Linked DNA regions of Homo sapiens: region 1 is linked to region 2. Evidence: fine-mapped expression QTL. A gene starts in region 2. The other region holds a variant in brackets. All regions are shown on one strand. Distances are between the middles of the regions. Region 1 overlaps GTF3C2 (general transcription factor IIIC subunit 2). Region 2 holds the start of EIF2B4 (eukaryotic translation initiation factor 2B subunit delta).

The links. PIP is the estimated chance that this variant, and not a neighbour inherited with it, causes the effect.
Region 1: its variant is the best candidate, but not a certain one, in a credible set for the expression of EIF2B4 in thyroid (GTEx, PIP 0.52).

What each region holds. Positions count from the first base shown.
Region 1 is chr2:27,336,945-27,344,944 of GRCh38, reverse strand. GTF3C2 (general transcription factor IIIC subunit 2) reads left to right here. Exons shown (of 19, transcript NM_001035521.3): 2 at 1,367-1,637; 3 at 1,798-2,119; 4 at 2,712-2,997; 5 at 6,925-7,019; 6 at 7,387-7,464; 7 at 7,603-7,701. The coding sequence starts at 1,391. It overlaps GTF3C2-AS1 (GTF3C2 antisense RNA 1), which reads right to left. Exons shown (of 4, transcript NR_038427.1): 3 at 7,619-7,734; 4 at 7,142-7,508. Among named protein-coding and RNA genes, the nearest start is that of GTF3C2-AS1, 5.4 kb to the right of the region's middle. The variant G/AG (reference allele first, on the strand shown) is at 4,053.
Region 2 is chr2:27,362,260-27,374,355 of GRCh38, reverse strand. EIF2B4 (eukaryotic translation initiation factor 2B subunit delta) reads left to right here and starts at 4,018. Exons shown (of 13, transcript NM_001034116.2): 1 at 4,018-4,072; 2 at 4,437-4,480; 3 at 4,807-4,942; 4 at 5,144-5,350; 5 at 5,623-5,702; 6 at 5,893-5,984; 7 at 6,217-6,331; 8 at 6,534-6,610; 9 at 6,797-6,899; 10 at 7,155-7,282; 11 at 7,420-7,597; 12 at 9,458-9,638; 13 at 9,757-10,004. The coding sequence starts at 4,042. The coding sequence ends at 9,956. SNX17 (sorting nexin 17) reads right to left here and starts at 3,740. Exons shown (of 15, transcript NM_014748.4): 1 at 3,550-3,740; 2 at 3,013-3,087; 3 at 1,616-1,733; 4 at 1,045-1,109; 5 at 385-495; 6 at 181-271; 7 at 1-10. The coding sequence starts at 3,612. GTF3C2-AS2 (GTF3C2 antisense RNA 2) reads right to left here. Exons shown (of 4, transcript NR_183827.1): 4 at 6,476-6,932. RefSeq lists enhancers at 3,358-3,447, 3,668-3,727, 2,849-3,810, 3,748-3,837, 4,058-4,337 and 1 more.

The DNA.
Region 1 (8,000 bases), 27 kb after region 2:
AACACCATCATAGCTCACTGTAACCTCGAACTCCTAGGCTCAAGCAATCCTCCTGTCTCAGCCTTCCAAGTAGCTGGGACTACAGGTGCGCACCACCATGCCCGGCTAACTTTTAAAATTTTTTGTAGAGATGAGGTCTCCCTATGTTGCCCAGACTGGTCTTGAACTCCTGGCCTCAAGCAGTCCTTCTTCCTTGGCCTCTCAAAGTGTTGGAATTACAGGCATGAGCCATCCTGCCTGGCCTTTTACTTATTCTTAAATAAACTTATTCCTTGACTAATCTTTACAGAAAGAGATGTTAACATTAAGTATGCCTCTTCACTTTGGTCTAAATTTTGTAGTATCTGGCAGCTCTTTTTTGTAGTATATTTTGAGGAAGTTGGTGTCCCTTTCCTAGATTCATGCTAGACAAATTTTTCTCTCTCTTCTTTTTTGGAGTGTGTGTATGTCTGTGTGTGTGTGTTTTATTTCATTGGGTTTCAGAGACAGAGGTTAAATAATTGTGCATTCACTGCTTCATCCTTACAAGAAAATATATGAGCTTTAAATTAGATAATGTATGTATAGCACTTAGTATAGTGCTTGGCACATAGTTAGCATTTAATAAATGGAAGCTTTATGGCCAGGCGCAGTGACTCATTATCTGTAATCCCAGCACTTTGGGAGGTTGAGGCGGGTGGATCACCTGAAGTCAGGAGTTTGAGACCAGCCTGGCCCACATGGTGAAACCTCATCTCTATTAAAAATACAAAAATTAGCTGGGCGTGGTGGTGCGCACCTTGATCCCAGCTACTCAGGAGGCTGAGGCAGGAGAATTGCTTGAACCCAGGAGGTGGAGGTTGTAGTGAGCTGAGATTGCCCCATTACACTCCAGCCTGGGCAACGAGAGTGAAACTCCGTCTTTAAAAAAAAAAAAAAATGGAAGCTTTATTTGTTTACTTGTTTATTGTCTGCTTCACCAAAATGTAAGTTCCATGAGGGCAGGGACCTTGTCTGTCTTGTTTATTGTCATATCACCAGTTTCCTTTTTTGTTTTTAATTTTTTTATTTTATTTTATTTTGCTAGAGAAGGGGTCTTGCTGTGTTGCCCAGGCTAGCCTCAAACTCCTAAGCTCAAGCTGCCTTCCTGCCTCAGCCTCCCTAAGTGCTGGGATTACAGGTGTGAGCCACCGCACCTGGCTCATATTACCAGTTTCCAGAACAGTCCTGACATATAGAAGGTGCTTAGTAAATATTGTTGAATAAGTGAATAATCAGGGAACTTGGTTATGAGTGTGAGAATGAGGGAGAAAAGATGGGGAAATAAAAATCTGAGCTAGTACAAATAGTTTTTGTCCTCTACTCATTTGTGTGTCTCTGTATGCAGGGGCAGCCATTTTGGGGGGTGCTGATGGATACCTGCGGGGTCGGCTATGTTGCCCTGGGGGAGGCCGGCCCCGTGGGGAACATGACTGTGGTAGACTCTCCTGGACAAGAGGTGCTAAATCAGCTTGATGTCAAGACCTCTTCAGAAATGACCAGTGCAGAGGCTTCCGTAGAGATGTCATTACCTACCCCTTTGCCTGGATTTGAGGATTCTCCTGATCAGAGGAGGCTCCCTCCAGAGCAGGAAAGCCTCTCCAGACTGGAACAGCCAGGTATGTACCTTGTCCTCTTATCTTTTTATTCCCCATGCCAAGCTTAAGATGAAAGAGCAGATTGAGCTCATAGGATCTTACAAACCTGGGTACAGTGTAATCTTTTCCATAGAGGTTTGAGTTCTGGTCCCATCTCACAGACCCATATTCTTCTCCACAGATCTTTCTTCAGAGATGTCAAAGGTCTCAAAGCCTAGGGCCTCAAAGCCTGGCCGGAAGAGAGGTGGTAGGACACGAAAAGGCCCCAAAAGGCCCCAACAGCCTAATCCTCCATCAGCCCCACTGGTTCCTGGTCTCTTAGATCAATCCAACCCTCTGTCCACCCCCATGCCTAAGAAACGAGGTCGAAAGTCCAAGGCAGAGCTGCTGCTGCTGAAGTTGTCAAAAGACCTAGATCGGCCAGAATCTCAATCTCCAAAGAGGCCCCCTGAGGACTTTGAGACCCCTTCTGGGGAACGACCCCGCCGAAGGGCTGCCCAAGTGTAAGGATTGTGGGGCATAGCTTGGTGGAGGGGGGTTGGGTGAAGGGATCAGGGTGGGGCAGATGTTGGAGAGAGAAGACTGATGAGGTATTAGGTAAGCAGGGGTGGTGTCTGGATTCTAGGGACTTGAGCAGTCCTTTAGGCTCTTACCGCAGCACTATTAATGGTATGTATTGCTAACTTGGTTTATCTAAGAATTATTGTCTGTACTTTATGTCCTATGCCATTTTTCACAAACTTTACCCAGCTCTTTATTGTTTTACTGTCCAGTATATGTCAGTATATATATTCTGTTCCATTCTTTCTCTTGCCCTCTGTGTTCTTTGACTGTGGTAGGATGAAAAATGTATTGAACTTGGAGTGAGAAGACCTGGGTTCAGATTCCACATTTGTTATCTCAGTCATCTCGGCCAAGTCACATAACTTAGATTTCTGGTTTTTCATCTTCCAAGGGGGAAGGGGAAATTAATAGAGTTAATTGGTTAATCATGGGGTTATTGGGAGGCTCCATTGAGATAAAAATCAACCATGTCTGGAAACGTGGGTTCTCAGTCATATGTGAGAATGGCTCTGACTCTGTCCGTTCCCACAGGGCACTTCTGTATCTTCAGGAACTGGCTGAAGAGCTCTCAACAGCCCTGCCTGCCCCTGTGTCCTGTCCTGAGGGCCCCAAGGTGAGCAGCCCCACCAAACCGAAGAAGATCCGGCAGCCAGCAGCCTGTCCAGGTGGAGAAGAGGTGGATGGTGCTCCACGGGATGAAGACTTTTTTCTCCAGGTTGAGGCTGAAGATGTGGAAGAAAGTGAGGGCCCAAGTGAGAGCTCATCTGAACCTGAGCCTGTAGTGCCCCGAAGCACCCCACGAGGATCTACTTCAGGGGTAACCTCAATGGACAAGAAAGTGAATGGGGACATAGTAGGATTTTAGGGGACCAGCAAGGTACTGAGAAAGGAAGGACAGCTTTGACCTGGTAACTATAATAGACAAAACAGGTTAAAGAAAAAAGGGTCCATTTCCAAAACATTTGGCATATTAGGGAGAGCGCAGAAGAAGGGGTATGGTAAACAAGATTATTCATTCATATATTGAGTATCTGTTCTCTGTTAGGAAACACAACAAACGTAAATAAGACAGTGTATCCTGCCTCACAAGTTCACAGTGCAATCAGCACTACCCCAGGAGTGAACAAAATGATTTAGGCATATAAAGGAAAGGGTAATTAACTGCCTAGGCTTCACAGAGGAATGATAGTTGAATTGCTTCTTGAAGGATAAGTAGAAGTTTGCCAGAGAGGATGGTTTTCCCATAAATTGATTATGGCTGGAGCATAGAGCCTGGAGTAAAGTTGTAGGCGAGATTAAACTGGAGAATATGAAAGGACATAGACCTATAGGAACCAACAAAGGCTGTTTTTGTTTATGGTTTTTTTTGGTGGTAAAATGTATATAACATAAAATTTGCCATTTTAACCATTTAAAAATACACAATTGAGGCTGGGCGTGGTGGCTTATGCCTGTAATCCCAGCACTTTGGGAGGCCAAGGCAGGTGGATCACCCGAGGTCAGGAGTTTGAGACCAGACTGACCAATATAGTGAAACCCCGTCTCTCCTAAAAATACAAAAATTAGCCAGGCATGGTGGCACGCACCTGTAGTCCCAGCTACTTGGGAGGCTGAGACAGGAGAATCACTTAAACCAGGCAGGGAGAGGTTGCAGTGAGCTGAGATCATGCCACTGCACTCCAGCCTGGGTGAGACAGTGAGACTCCATCTCAAAAACAAAACAAAACAAAACAAAACACACAATTCAGTTGTACACAAACTGTACAACAAACATTTTTAAGTAGAAAAATAACATCAGTTGGGAAAATAGGTCAAACTATAGTTGACAGAAGACAGCTTTGCCAGATGCGGTGGCTCACGCCTGTAATCCCA[G/AG]CACTTTGGGAGGCCAAGGTGGGTGGATCACAAGGTCAAGAGTTCGAGACCAGCCTGGCCAACATAGTGAAACACCGTCTCTACTAAAAATAAAAAAAAAAAAAATTAGCTGGATGTGGTGGCGCACGCCTGTAATCCCAGCTACTCAGGAGGCTGAGGCAGGAGACTCGCTTGAACCCAGTAGGCGGAGGTTGCAGTGAGCTGAGATTGCACCATTGCATTCCAGCCTGGGTGACAGTGTGAAACTGTCTCAAAAAAAAAAAAGACAGTTTCAGTTATCCAGGTAAGAGATAGGTCCTAAATCAAGCAGTGAAGGAAGAGAAGAGCAGGGAGGGGGCAGATTCAAGAGATATGTAAGAGGCCAGGTGCGGTAGCTCACACCTGTAATCTCAGCACTTTGGGAAGCCAAGGCAGGTGGATCACTTGAGGCCAGGGGTTTGAGACCAGCTTGGCCAACATAGTGAAACCCTGTGTCTACTAGAAATACAAAAATAATTAGCTGGGTGTGGTGGCATACACCTGTAGTCCCAGCTACTCGGGAGGCTGAGGCAGGAGAATCACTTGAACCCAGGAGGCAGAGGTTGCAGTGAGCTGAGATCGCGTTATTGCACTCCAGCCAGACTCTGTCTTTAAAAAAAGAAGAGATATGTAAGGTAATTTTTTATTTTTATTTTTGTAATTCTTTTGTTTCTGTGTTCTCTCACATAATGGAATATGTAAGAGAATTAACAGTATTTGGGAATTGAAGGGAGGGAGGAAGTTGAATAGCAGTTTCCAGCTTAAATGGTGGCATCATGCACTGAACCTGGGAACACGAAAAGGGTGAGGGATGTGGGAGGGGCAAAGGTGGGGAGGGGAGAAGTTGAATTCACTTTCTTTTTTCCCTTTTTTTTTTTTTTTTTTTTTGAAACAGAGTCTTGCTCTGTCACCCAGGCTGGAGTGCAGTGGAGTGATCTCATCTCACTGCAACCTCTGCCTCCTGGGTTCAAGTGATTCTCCTGCCTCGGCTTCCCAAGTAGCTGGGATTAAAGGCACGCCCCACCACGCTCAGCTAACTTTTGTATTTTTAGTAGAGATGGGGTTTCACCATGTTGGCCAGGCTGGTCTTGAATTCTTGACCTCAAGTGATCTGCCCGCCTTGGTCTCCCAAAGTGCTGGGATTACAGATGTGAGCCACCACACCTGACAGAATTCACTTTCTGACATGTTGAGTTTGAGGTGCCCATGGGCCATGGGTCATTCTGCTGGAGATGTCTGGTCACCAGTTGCATATATGAGACCAGTGCCTTACTTGCCTCACGTGCAACATCTAAGGGATAACAGAAACCCTCAGTAATTGAGATAAATGCTATTTTGATGCAACATTTAAAAAAATCAATGCAACAAATCATGGATATTTCGTTCCATGATGAACAAAATATCAAAATTTTAAATAAAGACAGGATCTTTACTGATTTTTTTTTTCTTTTTTTTTTTTTTTTTTGAGACGGAGTTTCGCTCTTATTGCCCAGGCTGGAGTGCAATGGCATGATCTCAGCTCACCACAACCTCCACCCCTCCCGGGTTCAAGCAATGCTCCCGCCTCAGCCTCCCAAGTAGCTGAGATTACGGGTGCACACCACCACACCCAGCTAATTTTTGTATTTTTAGTAGAGATGGGGTTTCACCGTGTTGGTTAGGCTGGTCTCGAACTCCTGACCTCGTGATCCGCCCGCCTCGGCCTCCCAAAGTGCTGGGATTACAGGCATGAGCCACCATGCCCGGCTTTACTGATTTTTTCAACTGATTACTGTTTTTTTCCATTTGCCTCATGCTCTAATATGGCTTGCCACAACACTGTCTAGAACTTGTAGAGAAGTTGAGACTGAGTCAGGTTTACATGACGGAAATGTAAACTTGATAATCAGGCATAAAGATGGTAGTCAAGCTGGGTTTGGTGGTATGCATTTGTACTTCAAGCTACTCAGGAGGCTGAGGCAAGAGGATTGCTTGAGCCCAGGAGTTCAAGTCTGGCATGGGCAACACAGCAAGACCCTGTCTCTAAATTTTAAAGAAGGCCAGGTGTGGTGGCTCACACCTGTAATCCCAGCACTTTGGGAGGCCGAGGGGGAGGGATCGCTTGAGCCCAGGAGTTCAAAACCAGTCTGGGCCATGGCGAAACCTTGTCTCTACAAAAAAATACAAAAAAATTAGCCAGGTGTAGTGGGGTGTGCCTGTAGTCCCAGCTACTCAGGAGGCAGAGGTGAGAGGATTGCTTGAGCCCAGGAGGCAGAAGCTGGGGCTGCAGTGAGCCAAGATTGCGCCACTGCACTCCAGCCTGGGCAACAGAGTGAGACCCTATCTCAAAAACAACAAAAAAACAAAAAGACAGTAGTCAAAGCCATGGGACATGAGATGAGATTACCAGGAGTGTGTGTGTGTGTGTGTGTGTGCGCGCGTGCGCGTGCGCGCCTGTGTAGAGGGGCGAGAAGACGACAGGAACTCTGGGGAATACCATCATCGAGGAGACCTGTCAAGAAGGGAGAACCTGTGAAGGAATATTAAGAGAGGGGAGAGGAGTAAGGGAGACTATTCCATAGGGCGGGAGTTTCAAAGAGGCATAAGGGAATCCTGTGAATCAAATACCATGGAGATGTTGAGGAAGCTGAACAGAAAATAGGTAACAGATTTTGCATTTTCGATGGAGGAGTAGAGCAGAAGGTGAAGAAGTCATTATAGTGGTTGAAACACAAATCTTTTAAGATGCTGATAGGGCAGTGATTGGAGGGGGAGGTATTGCCAAAGAAGATAAAAACTGGGAAAGAGCTGTCTCTGGGACTTTGTCCAACCTGTAGAATTTGCTCCCTTATATTTTCTTCAATTTGATCCTCAGAAACAGAAACCACACTGCCGAGGAATGGCTCCCAATGGCTTACCAAATCATATCATGGCTCCTGTTTGGAAGTGCCTCCATCTCACCAAGGACTTGTGAGACTTGGGGACAGGGGGCTGGGGTTAATAAAGGGGTGGTAGAGGAGTGCAAGGGCGGTATTGAAGTGGGGCCGTGGGAAAGAGAAGCACTCATGGGTGGAATACCGTGATGACATTCATTACTAAAAAGCACTGCTCTAGAGGCAAGAGCTCTAGAACTCTTTAATTAAAGTGAAATAAAATGAAAGGCTCTGTTTCTCAGCTGCGCTAGCCACATTTTAGGTGCTTGGTAGCTAATTGGAGCTAGCAACTGGCATATTGGGGAGCACAGATAATGGATCATTTCCATCCCCACAGAAAGTTTTATTGGACTGTGCGGCTGTAGAATCCCTCTCCTTCATTAATGCTTCTTCTGTTTCTCCAGCCGAGAGCAGAAACATTCATACTGGGAGTTTGCTGAGTGGATTCCTTTAGCCTGGAAGTGGCACTTGTTATCTGAGCTGTAAGTTGAAGCAACATCTCTGTAGCTTAGGAAGGGTGACACCACTGGAGACGAAAGGGTGACAGAGGCTCTATAATGGGAACCCTGAGATGGGTGAAACACTTCCAAATTTAGACTGTTCCCTTTGTCTTCCCCCAGTGAGGCCGCTCCCTACCTGCCCCAGGAGGAGAAGTCTCCATTGTTTTCTGTACAACGTGAAGGGCTACCTGAAGATGGCACCCTCTACCGAATAAACAGGTGAAGATTGCACATCCGCCCTTTTTTCTGATTCTAGGAGCCAGAAACAAGAAAAATGAATGTTGAAAGAGATGACAGATAAGTCCTGTCCTTCCCCTGATGCTGGTTCAGTTGGTCCCAAGAATAAGAGTGCTGACTAGAGCTGGTCAGTCCTCTCTGATTTGTAGTGTTCATTACTGGCAGGCTGAGGGAAGCTAGAGAGATTTAGGGGCCAAAGCAGTTCACAAGGTTACATCTACTCAGATAGACCTGGACAGACTAGCCTTAGGGAGACTACTATAGTATGCCAGAATGAACAG
Region 2 (12,096 bases):
TTCCGTACAACTACAGGTTAAAAAAAAAAAAATGAAAATATAGTGAGATTTAAAGGAAGGGAAATCAAGAAAGAAGTGCCCTGAGGCAATGTTCATTCTGGGGGTGGGGGTGGGGAGTTAGGGGGGCTGCAAACTCTACTGAAGTACCCTTGTACTGCAGTCAAGTCCAGAGAAACTCACAAGAAAAGGCTCCATCCTCTTTTTCTCGAACTAAGAATAGACTAAAGTATCCAATCAAGTCATCTGGAAGATCCAGCTTTGCAGCTACAGCCTGGGGATAGGGATAGAAGTACAGCTCATCATACTGGCTGGTTCCAATCATTCTCCAAGCCCAGGACCCCAGGATGTAGGGGAAGAAGGGGCAGTGCTGAACAAGCGCCTCACCTCCAGGACATCCTCAGTCTGATCTGAAGTTAGCACGTTGACCAGAACTTTCTGCCCGTTGCTGAGCAGCACTTCCAAGGACACTTCCTCTGTGGGGACCTGCTGTGTCTCCTGTTGTGAGCACACATGGGGATGGGAAGCACTGCCTTGTCCCTTGCCTTGACCTATGCCCAACTCTATTTCTAGGTCCCTTGTGTGTCTTTATTCTCAGCTGCTTAAATATAGGCTGTGATTTCTTTGATTTCATAAGAATAGAAGTTCCATTCCATTAAAAAAGATGACTCCTCTGTTATTAAGATGACATGGCCTGGCTGGGTGTGGTGGCTCACACCCGTAATCCCAGCACTTTGGGAGGCCAAGGCGGGTGGATCACCTGAGGTCAGGAGTTCGAGACCAGCCAGGCCAACACGGCAAAACCCCGTCTCCACTAAAAATACAAAAATGAGCCGGACATGGTGGCAGGCGCCTGTAATTCTAGCTACTTGGGAGGCTGAGGCAGGAGAATCGCTTGAATCCGGGAGGCGGAGATTGCAGTGAGCTGAGATCGCACCACTGCACTCCAGCCTGTGCAAAAGAGCAAGACTCTGTCTCAAAAAAATAAAAGACATGACCTTCCAGCAAGGTCCTTTCCTTAAATCTTGGTCCCACCCAAAGCCCTACCTGTTGTGCCCGACGCAGGAAACTGTTGAAAGTCTCGCTGCTCCCAAGCAATGGGTCTTGCCGAACTACGAGGACAAGAGAACATTATTACAGGAACTTAGCACTCACTCTTGGCTCCCCAGTCCTCCTCTCAGTAGGTTCCCCCGACCCCATTTCCTGGGCTGATGGTGGCCTGCCACATCCCCCAGCTGGCCTCACCTCACTCACTGTTTGCATAAATTCTTCACCTGCCCCACCCTTGGCTGCCATCTAGGTGAGTCCAGTCTATAGAACTAGGGAAATAACAATGATGTTAATCTAAAGCACATCAGATACAAATTAAGTTCTCTCCACTGATATTAAGACTAGTGTTATACTAGTATTTCTCATAGATGTTAGTGCCCAAATTGTTTTGCTAGTACACAGAGTTACACATCCTCGTACACTATTTACTTTGCTAACTGCATAACAGATCAAACAAGAGCCTTCCTAGATCTAGAAATTAAATCAGGCCCTTCCACAGAACCAGCTGTTTTTAAGTCTCTCCCCATAGTCCTCAATATAGTCAACCTAGTTTCCTGCAACCACTCACCAGCTTGCATGTACTTCTCTAACTGCTCTCTCCTCTGTTCTACCTCAGCAGGAGTCAGAGAGAAAAGCTTCTTTGGGGGGAATGCAGGAAGCACATTGGCCCCATACTCCTTCCGAAGCTATTTAGAGAAAGAGATACAACCCTTCACATAAACACAGAAAATGAGATGAGGCAATCTACATATGCTCATAATGTTCTCTTGGGTGCCCCTCCCTTCCCTCAGTCCCTGTTCCCCTGTCTACCCTGGTCATCTGAGAAACAATTCCTTTGACAGCGGTAGCACCTCAAGGGAGCTGTCCTAGATATAAGTTGTGCTCTATTTTACTGTGTACAAGTCAGCCCCTCCACAGTACGGGGAGGATTTGTACTGGGCCAGGACCTATAGGGAGCCCCTTGACCACCTAGCAAGACTGTTCACTGAACCCTTAAAGGAAGGAAAGGGCTTTATAAAGTGCACAGTTAATAGCTAAGTCTGTTCACAAAATATCTTAGGACTTAAAGGGACTTTGCAGATCAAAGAATCCATCTTTCAGTTGTAGAAACTGAGGCCCAAAGAAATCAGTTTCTACAGGCCTCATGCCTGTAATCTCAGCATTTTGGGAGGCAAGGTGGGTGGATCACCTGAGGTCAGGAGTTTGAGACCAGCCTGGCCAACATAGTGAAACCCCTCTCTACTAAAAATACAAAAATTAGCTGGGTGTGGAGGCAGCCGCCTGTAATCCCAGCTACTCAGGAGGCTGAGGAAGGAGAATCGCTTGAACCCAGGAGGCAGAGGTTGCAGTGAGCCGAGATCGTGCCACTGCACTCCAGCCTGGGCAACAAGAGAGAAACTCCGTCCCAAAAAAAGATATCAGGTAACTTGTTCAGGGTTGCACAACTAATTATCAGTGGAGCTCTACTGAGTTAAATAGAGTTTAAGATCTGGTAAGGAAGGAGGAGAAACATTGCATCACAGATACATAACGATAATTGGCACAGCTAAACACACTGAAATGAGCCGAAGAACACAAAAGGAAATCGGTGAATCGTTTGTATAAGCAGGGAAAAGAATTTCAAGTTGCCGCTCAGATGACAGAAGGAATGTGCTTTGACAGCCTGGGTGGAGGTAGTGGGGGGAGGGGTTGGTTTGTCCATGCAGGGGTAAAGGCTACTAGAGCAGTAAGACTGGACAGAAAACCAGAATATAAGAACAGGAAGGAGCAGTTGTTGCGCGGACATTAAGCTTCTTAGGGAGTTCCCGGAAATGTCAGACAAGATAAACCAGGGCCCTACCCTGTGGCAGTGATTAAAGGGGAACTACAGCCTACGGGAACAAGAAGAGCGGGTAAAGGGAGACACTGATGTCCACGTGTAGGGAAGGGCTTGAAGCTGTCTCAAGGCAGGGGTGCTAGTCCCACCTGCTCGTGCAGCCCCAGGAGCTGGCTGTAGCGCACCCGACAGTGCAGGACTCCATTCACGTGAATGTTATAGGCCTGAGGACACAAAAGTAGTCAAGCATTTTAGGGTTGCGGTCTGCGCAACCCCCCTGAGAACCCTGGCCGGAAGTTGCCTGGCAACTCGCCGGAGTAACGCGCTAATCTCCCGAGGGATAGTTCGCTTGTTTTCGCCAGGGCCAAGTCCCAAAGCTGAAGAGCCAGTCCGGGGGAAATTCGGACGCTTGTGTTGCAGTCTCACTGCCCAAGAGGCCAGTGACGCCCACCAGGGCAGCTGCGGCCTAGCTCGGGGAAGCGACCCGGCCTAAGGGCCTACAGGAGCTCGGGCGACCACTGCACGAATCACACACATGAGATAAGCTCCCAGAGAGGCCGTCGGGAGTCGGCGGCCCAGGACCAGGCCCGAAGGGTGGCGGTCAGGCCTCAGAGGCCGCTCCGAGATGGCTCGGGCCCGTTATCCCCGCCCCTGCCCGGCCCGGCTCGGCTCCGGCCGCTCCTCACCACGTAGGCGGAGCCGCCGCTGTCCCCGCTGCGGGACTCGGTTTCGGGAATGGAAAAGTGCATGTTCCCTACGGCACGGCACGGCCGGGCTCCGGACTGTGAGGGCCGCAGCGGCTCTGCACGCTCCCCCTCCGCTGCTCAGCGAGTCCCCGCAGCCTCACTCGCCATTTTGGGAGCCCTGCGATCCGATGTGGGAAGGCGGTGGGACGTCGGTTCTGGGACGCAATCGCCTGGGCATGCTGGGAACTGTAGTCTAAAGGGCAAGAGCCACCTGTCCGGATAGGGAGCCCAAAGTGGAGTTGGCCCTCATTGCAACCCGTAGTGCGGGGCGGGGCCTCGGGGCCCGTCGGAAATTGTAGTCCGATTGGGGCTGCGCGCTTCGCTTCTGCGGCTCAGCCTCCAGCCCAGGTGGCGCTGTGGACCCTGCAGCCGCGGAGCGAGGCAGCGGGGCGGCTCCGTGACCACGGCGGGCGGAGCCTAGGACTGAGGGCGATGGCTGCTGTGGCCGTGGCTGTTCGCGAGGGTGAGTGAAGAGCCGGGCCTGCCTACTGGTACGCGGAGCCGACGAGCTCCGGACAGCTAGTGCCGGGCCTTGAGCGCCTTTGGGCCCCGCCGCTCCGTTCCAGCGCCACGCTGGGCTCCGGTCTACACAGTCTCGAGCGCAGTCCCGCGCCGCGCACCGGCTGGTTGCTGTGAGGAGGGTCGGTGACCCCTCCATTCCTTTGATCCGCCGCGCAGTGCGTCCCCACGCGGATCCCTGGCTCGCCTCGCGCCTGCCGGCGGATCCGTGGTCATGCCAACCCAGCAGCCGGCTGCGCCGAGTACTCGTGCCCCCAAACCCTCCCGGAGTCTCTCTGGCTCACTTTGTGCCCTGTTTTCTGATGCAGACTCGGGATCCGGGATGAAGGCGGAGCTTCCCCCTGGGCCTGGGGTAAGTGAGGCTTCCCTCCCAAGCCGCCTGCCAAGCGCTACGCAGGAGGCTGTGCCAGCTTTATTCCGCCCCAGCTCCCATCCCGTGTCGGTTTATTTCTCAGTAAAGCCAGGAGATTTTACAGAGGTCTTGCAACCCTAGGGATATATGATTCTGTCCCTGGAGGAGAAACGTCAGCCTCTGTGGATGTAAGCTTGCAACAGGTAGCTTGTGGAAGTTAGGAAGAACTAGGGATTTAACCATGTGGAAATCTTGTAAGCATCCAATAGTATTTGTTCCCCTTTGGAATTGTTGGGGAAGAGCAGTATCCTATGTCTGTGTCTCAGGCAGTGGGGAGGGAAATGACCAAAGAAGAAAAGCTGCAGCTTCGGAAGGAAAAGAAACAGCAGAAGAAGAAACGGAAGGAAGAAAAGGGGGCAGAACCAGAGACTGGCTCTGCTGTATCTGCAGCCCAATGTCAAGGTGAGTGAGGGGTCTCTTTTAAAGGGCTGGGGTGTGGAGCTGGTAGAGGGATGTGGTGGGAGAGATAAGGGAGAGACAGGACAAAGTTGATTTGAGCAAGTGTGTAAAGCAAAGAGGTTTACAAGGAGAGAAGCTAGTTTTAGCTGGGGCACGGATATCACCTGCCTGCAGCTTGGGCATTTTTTTTTTTAATGCTTTTAGTAGGCCCAACCAGAGAACTGCCAGAATCGGGCATTCAGTTGGGCACTCCTCGGGAGAAAGTTCCAGCTGGTCGGAGTAAGGCCGAACTTCGGGCTGAGCGTCGAGCCAAGCAGGAGGCCGAGCGGGCCCTGAAACAGGCAAGAAAAGGGGAACAAGGAGGACCACCTCCTAAGGCCAGCCCCAGCACAGCTGGAGAAACCCCCTCAGGTATCTTCCCTTCATTTTAAGACCTCCCTTACTCCTAATTATAACGCCAGCTCAGGCTGCCCAATAGTAAAACAGCTCTCCCCTCTCATTCTTGGGACCCAGAGTTCTGAATTGTTCCTGCAACCCCATTATCCTATCCCTATTTCCTTTTCTACCCTATTCTCCCGTTTTCTCCACCTCATCCTGTTTTTCTTGATGCCCCTTATACCCTAAGAGCAAATTACACATTTCAAGACCTACAGTGTCCTGAAAACATGATGATTATCTTTCAGGAGTGAAGCGTCTCCCTGAGTACCCTCAGGTTGATGACCTACTTCTGAGAAGGCTTGTTAAAAAACCAGAGCGTCAACAGGTAGGAAGTGGGTTTGGTGCCTGGCTAGAAAGAGCCTAGGGAAATGGACTGGAGGGAGGAAAGGTGCTGGGTGCAAAGTGAGAAGGATAGGTGCTTGGGTCAGAGTAGTCTTACTGTTCACTTCCTTTCCAGCTTTATCCCATCCTTTTTAAACTCTGGGCCATTGGTCCTGTTCCCTTGTTTTGTCAAGGTTCCTACACGAAAGGATTATGGATCCAAAGTCAGTCTCTTCTCTCACCTACCCCAGTACAGCAGACAAAACTCTCTGACCCAGTTTATGAGGTAGGATCCTATGAAATTGTCATAACTTTTGAGTCTGAGGAGTTTTAGTAAGTCAGTATTGAAAGTTTCTAGTAATCTGAGATGGACTCTGTAGGAAAAAGTATGAACCCAAGGCAGAACTGTAGAGGAGTGGGGAAATCTGCTAGTGAAGGGAGTTCCTTTTCATCAGGGGCAGGTGGGCAGTAGATGCTCAAGCTCCCTTTCAAAGTATGTGACACCGCCATCCCATCAGCATCCCATCCTCTGTGATCCACCCAGCCATGGTGCGACTCGGCCTGCAGTACTCCCAGGGCCTGGTCAGTGGCTCCAATGCCCGGTGTATTGCCCTGCTTCGTGCCTTGCAGCAGGTATGTCCCATCCTGTTCTCTCTTATGATCCAACCCCACCTCCCCCAATACTACCCCAGCTTCTGTCACCCAAGGTCATCTCTGGGGGACAGAGGGAATACTCCTACCCTCAGAACATTTTCCTCAGTGAAGCTTACCCCCAGCCCCCGTTCAGAGATCTTTATTAAGGGGTATTTTGCAGATCACCTTGTGTACCCTATAGGTGATTCAGGATTACACAACACCGCCTAATGAAGAACTCTCCAGGGATCTAGTGAATAAACTAAAACCCTACATGAGGTAGGGACAACACTATAAGTCCACTCCCAGCTCGCCCAATCTTTGTCTTGTACTCTTTTTCCTGCTTTTCTATCTCTCTTTTCATTTTGTGTTCTATTTTCTTTTTAAAGACTTTTTTTTTAAATGTGAAGGCTTTGTAAGTTGTGAAGAGTTGCGCAGATATAAGGTATTGCTGTTGTATTATAGCTTCCTGACTCAGTGCCGTCCCCTGTCAGCGAGCATGCACAACGCCATCAAGTTCCTTAACAAGGAAATCACCAGTGTGGGCAGTTCCAAGCGGGAAGAGGAGGTGATGAGTATGAGAAATAAGGAAGGCATGCACCTGTGGGTAAAATTAAGAAACATGTTAAAAACTCCCGGGAAGGCCAACGTAAGCCTTTTTTTGCCCTAGTCAAGGGTTAAGGAATGGTTTGGCCATTCTGACTTGTGCCATCTCTGAGCCCTCTATAGGCTTGTCATCATACACATATTCAAGCACCTGGCATGATCATCAGAGGGATAAAAGTGTCCATTTCTTGTTCACTAAGGATTTTACTCCATTTAGGCCAAGTCAGAACTTCGAGCAGCCATTGATCGGTATGTGCAAGAGAAGATTGTGCTAGCAGCTCAGGCAATTTCACGCTTTGCTTACCAGAAGATCAGTAATGGAGATGTGATCCTGGTATATGGATGGTATGGTCCAGACCTTGTGACTGAGCAGATTGGGAGTTGGAATGATCTGAAGAAGGGACTACCCACTTGCCTTTGGGAATAAGTTAGTCATCAGTTACTGACATTTATAACTGAATCCTCCTCTTCATTCACTCTAGCTCATCTCTGGTATCACGAATTCTTCAGGAGGCTTGGACAGAGGGCCGGCGGTTTCGGGTGGTAGTGGTGGACAGCCGGCCATGGCTGGAAGGAAGGCACACACTACGTTCTCTAGTCCATGCTGGTGTCCCAGCCTCCTACCTGCTGATTCCTGCAGCCTCCTATGTGCTCCCAGAGGTAAGTACAGAGGAAAAGGACTCCAAAGTTGGCGGTGAAAAGGTGTAGTAGTATAGACATAATCTCACCTTCCCAAAGTTACAGTTTTGTTTTTGTTTTGAGATAAGGATGGAGTGCAGCGACGTGATCACAGCTCACTGCAGTCTTGACCTCCTGGGCTCAGGTGATCTTCCCACCTCCGCCTCTGAGTAGCTGGGACTACTGGTGTGTGCCACCATGCCCAGCTAGTTTTTTATTTTTCTTGTAGAGATGGGATATCGCTACATTGCCCAGGCTGGAACTCCTGGGCTCAAGCAGTTCCCCCTGTCTCGGCCTCCCAAAGTACTGGGATCATAGGCATGAGCCACTGTGCCCAGCCACAATTATTTAAAAATATTAGAATTATATAGCCCTGGCTTGGTGCCATGGCTCAATGCCTGCAATCTCAGCACTAAGGCAGGAGGATCACTTGAGCCCAGGAGTTCAAGACCAGCCTGCTCAACATAATGAGACCCTGTACACACACACACACACACACACACACACACACACACACACACACACCCCACCCCACCCCCACCCCGGGCATGGTGGCATGCGCATGTAGTTCCAGCTACTTAGGCTGAGGTGAGAGGACTGCTTGAGTGCGTGCGCGCGCGCACGCACACACACACACACACACACAGCTACTTAGGAGGCTGAGGTGAGAGGACTGCTTGAACACACACACACACACACACACCCGGGCATGGTGGCATGCGCATGTAGTTCCAGCTACTTAGGAGGCTGAGGTGAGAGGACTGCTTGAGCCCAGGAGGTTGAGGCTACAGTGAGCTGTCATTGCACCACTGCACTCCAGCCTGGGTGACAGAATGAAACCCTGTGTCAAAAAAAATAATTATATAGCTCTGTTTCTATTTAATTGGAAAAACACTGACAGTATATTACAGCAGTCTAGCTATTGCAAAAACATTACATTAAACTAGCAACCAGGAAGAGGGAACAAGACAAAAGTAACTTCAAAGTTTACTTTTCCTGTGGGAGATTTGGTGGGTCAGTGGTCAGGTGTTTTCACAGAAGAAAAGCCATCATTAAGATTTATTAGGCCGGGCACAGTGGCTCAAGCCTGTAATTCCAGCACTTTGGGAGGCCGAGGAGGGCAGTTCACGAGGTCAGGAGTTCACAATCATCCTGGCTAACACAGTGAAACCCCGTCTCTACTAAAAATACAAAAAATTAGCCGGGCGTGGTGGTGGGCGCCTGTAGTCCCAGCTAATCTGGAGGCTGAGTCAGGAGAATGGCGTGAACCCAGGAGGCAGAGCTTGCAGTGAGCCGAGATCATGCCACTGCACTCCAGCCTGGGCGACAGAGCGAGACTCCATCTCAAAAAAAAAAAAAAAAAGGATTTATTAATTGCCGGACTCAGTGGCTCACGCCTGTTATCCTGGCACTTTGGGTGGCTGAGGCGGGCAGATCACCTGAGGTTGGGAGTTCGAGACCAGCCTGACCAACGTGGAGAAACCCCGTCTCTACTAAAAATATAAAAATACAACAAATCAGCTGGGAGTGGTGGTGCATGCCTGTAATCCCAGCTACTCGGGAGGCTGAGGCAGGAGAATCACTTGAACCCAGGAGGCAGAGGTTGTGGTGAGCCGAGATCGCGCCATTGCACTCCAGCCTGGGCAACAAGAGCAGAACTTCATCTCAAAGAAAAAAAAAAAAAAGATTTATTACTTGTTGTCTGTTTTTGTTTCTTTCCCTTCTTTTCACAGGTGTTGAGATTTATTACTTGTCTTAATGTTGCTGTCCTGTAAGTAGGGGACCTTATTTTGCATTGATACAACAATGACATTTTTTTCTTCCTCTTCTCCTGTGAAACAGGTTTCCAAGGTGCTATTGGGAGCTCATGCACTCTTGGCCAACGGGTCTGTGATGTCACGGGTAGGGACAGCACAGTTAGCCCTGGTGGCTCGAGCCCATAATGTACCAGTGCTGGTTTGCTGTGAAACATACAAGTTCTGTGAGCGTGTGCAGACTGATGCCTTTGTCTCTAATGAGCTAGGTAAGGAGGCAAAAGAGAAGCCTCCAGCTACCTGTGAAGACTTGAGAGGGAGGGAGAGGGGCGGATAAACTAGAACTTCTTTTCTGAAAGAACATAATGGGTACGCCTTCCATTGCAGATGACCCTGATGATCTGCAATGTAAGCGGGGAGAACATGTTGCGCTGGCTAACTGGCAGAACCACGCATCCCTACGGTTGTTGAATCTAGTCTATGATGTGACTCCCCCAGAGCTTGTGGATCTGGTGATCACGGAGCTGGGGATGATCCCTTGCAGTTCTGTACCTGTTGTTCTACGAGTCAAGAGCAGTGACCAGTGACGGGGGAAACACAGGGTTAATAAATGCCATACTCCCTACCCTCAGCAACTCTGCTGCCTTTGTTTCTCTTTTAGCATCTCCACCACTTAAGTTAGGAGTCCAGACTTCACAACCCCTTTTATCACCTGCTACTCAGACCTTTGTGAAGACCTGCTCAAGTAACTAGCTCCATGCCAGTACATTGGGACTAACCTGAAGACCCGTATAAAGAACCAAAACTACCCAAATCAATCATTCACTGAGCATCTACATGCCAGACACTAAACTGGGTGTGAGGAGGAATATGAAAACAAATAGTCCTGGGCTGAGTGCAGTGACTCATTCCTGTAATCTCAGCATTTTGGGAGGCTAAGGCAGGAGGATTGTTTGAGCCCAGAGGTTTGAGACCAGCCTGGGCAACATGGCAATCCGGTCTCTACAAAAAATAAAAATTAGCTGGGCATGGTTGTGCTCATCTGTTGTTCCAGCTACTCAGGAGGCTGAAGCCAGAGGATTGCTTGAGTCCAGGAGGTAGAGGCTGCAGTAAGCCATGATTGTGCCGCTGCACTCCAGCCTGGGTGACAGAGTGAGACCCTGTCTCAAAAAGAGAGTCCTAACCTTATAAATTAGCATTTGTTGAATATTTAACTGTGTGTCAGAAACTGTTCTGAACCCTTTCTTACCCATTTAGGAAGATTAATACAACTCTATGAAGGCTGGGCGCAGTGGCTCATTTGGGAGGCCGAGGCAGGCAGATCACCTCAGGTCAAGAGTTCAAGACCAGCCTGGCCAACATGATGAAACCCTGTCTCTACACTAAATACAAAAATTAGCTGGGCGTGGTGGCGCATGCCTGTAATCCCAGCTACTCCAGAGGCTGAGGCAGAAGAATCGCTTGAACCCAGGAGATGGAGATTGCAGTGAGCTGAGATGGCACCATTGCACTCCAGCCTGGGCAACAAAGCGAGGCTCCATCTCTAAAAATAAAAATAATAATACAACTCTATGAAGTAAATGCGATTTTACAGATGAGATAATGGAAGCATAGAAAGGTTAAGTTGCTTGCCCAAGGCAACACAGCTCAGACACAGAAAGGTTAAGTTACTTACCCAAGGCAGACAGAGAGATGAAGTTACTTGCCCTAGGTAACACAGCTAGTCAGTAGCTAAACCAGGATGTGACCTCAGGCAGTCTGGATCTAGAAACTGTGCCCTTAACTTTTGTGCTATATTCCCTTAAGGAACGCTTACCATGGCATAAGAAGATAGTATCTACAGTATGAGGTAACCCAGTAGTAGTATGAACAAAAGATTGGTGAAAACTTACAAGTCACATCTAACCTAGTCCTTGAAAGATAAGTAATTGCCCAGTTAGGGAAGAAAAAAAAAGAAGAAACAGCTTGAACACAAAGAATAGGCCTTAAAGTGAGTGGCCAATGTAAAAGTGTCACATAGTATAGTGAGGCTAGAACTGAGTCTTATTGTTGAGTGATCAAACTGCAAAGGTAAGTTGGGGCCAGACTGTGAGTCCAACCACTGGTTAGCTTAAAATGAAGAGTTATCTATTGGGTATATATGTGTGTTATTGAATTTTTTTTTTTTTGAGAAAGAGTCACTCGTCTCCCAGGCTGGAGTGCAATGGCACTATCTCGGCTCACTGCAACCTCTGCCTTCTGGGTTCAAGCAATTCTCCTGCCTCAGCCTCCCAAGTAGCTGGGATCACAGGTGCCTGCCACCACACTTAGCTAATTTTTGTATTTTTAGTAGAGACGGGGTTTCACCATGTGGGTCAGGCTGGTCTTGAACTCTTGACCTCAAGCAATCCACCTGCCTTGGCCTCCCAAAGTGCTGGGATTACAGGCGTGAGCCACTGCACCCAACCATTTTATCAAATTTTTTTTTTATACTTTAAGTTCTACAGTACATGTGCGCAATGTGCAGGTTTGTTACATAGGTATACATATGCCATGTTGGTTTTATCAAACATTTTTAAGCAGCGTAAAAGTAGAACTATACAAAGAATCTCCATGACCAGATGCAACAGTTATCAAATTTGCCACATTTACTTTCTCTTTTTGTTGTTTTTCTTTTTTCTTTTTTTTTTTTTTTTTTTTGAGACAGAGTTTCGCTCTTGTTGCCCAGGCTGGAGTGCAATGGTGCAA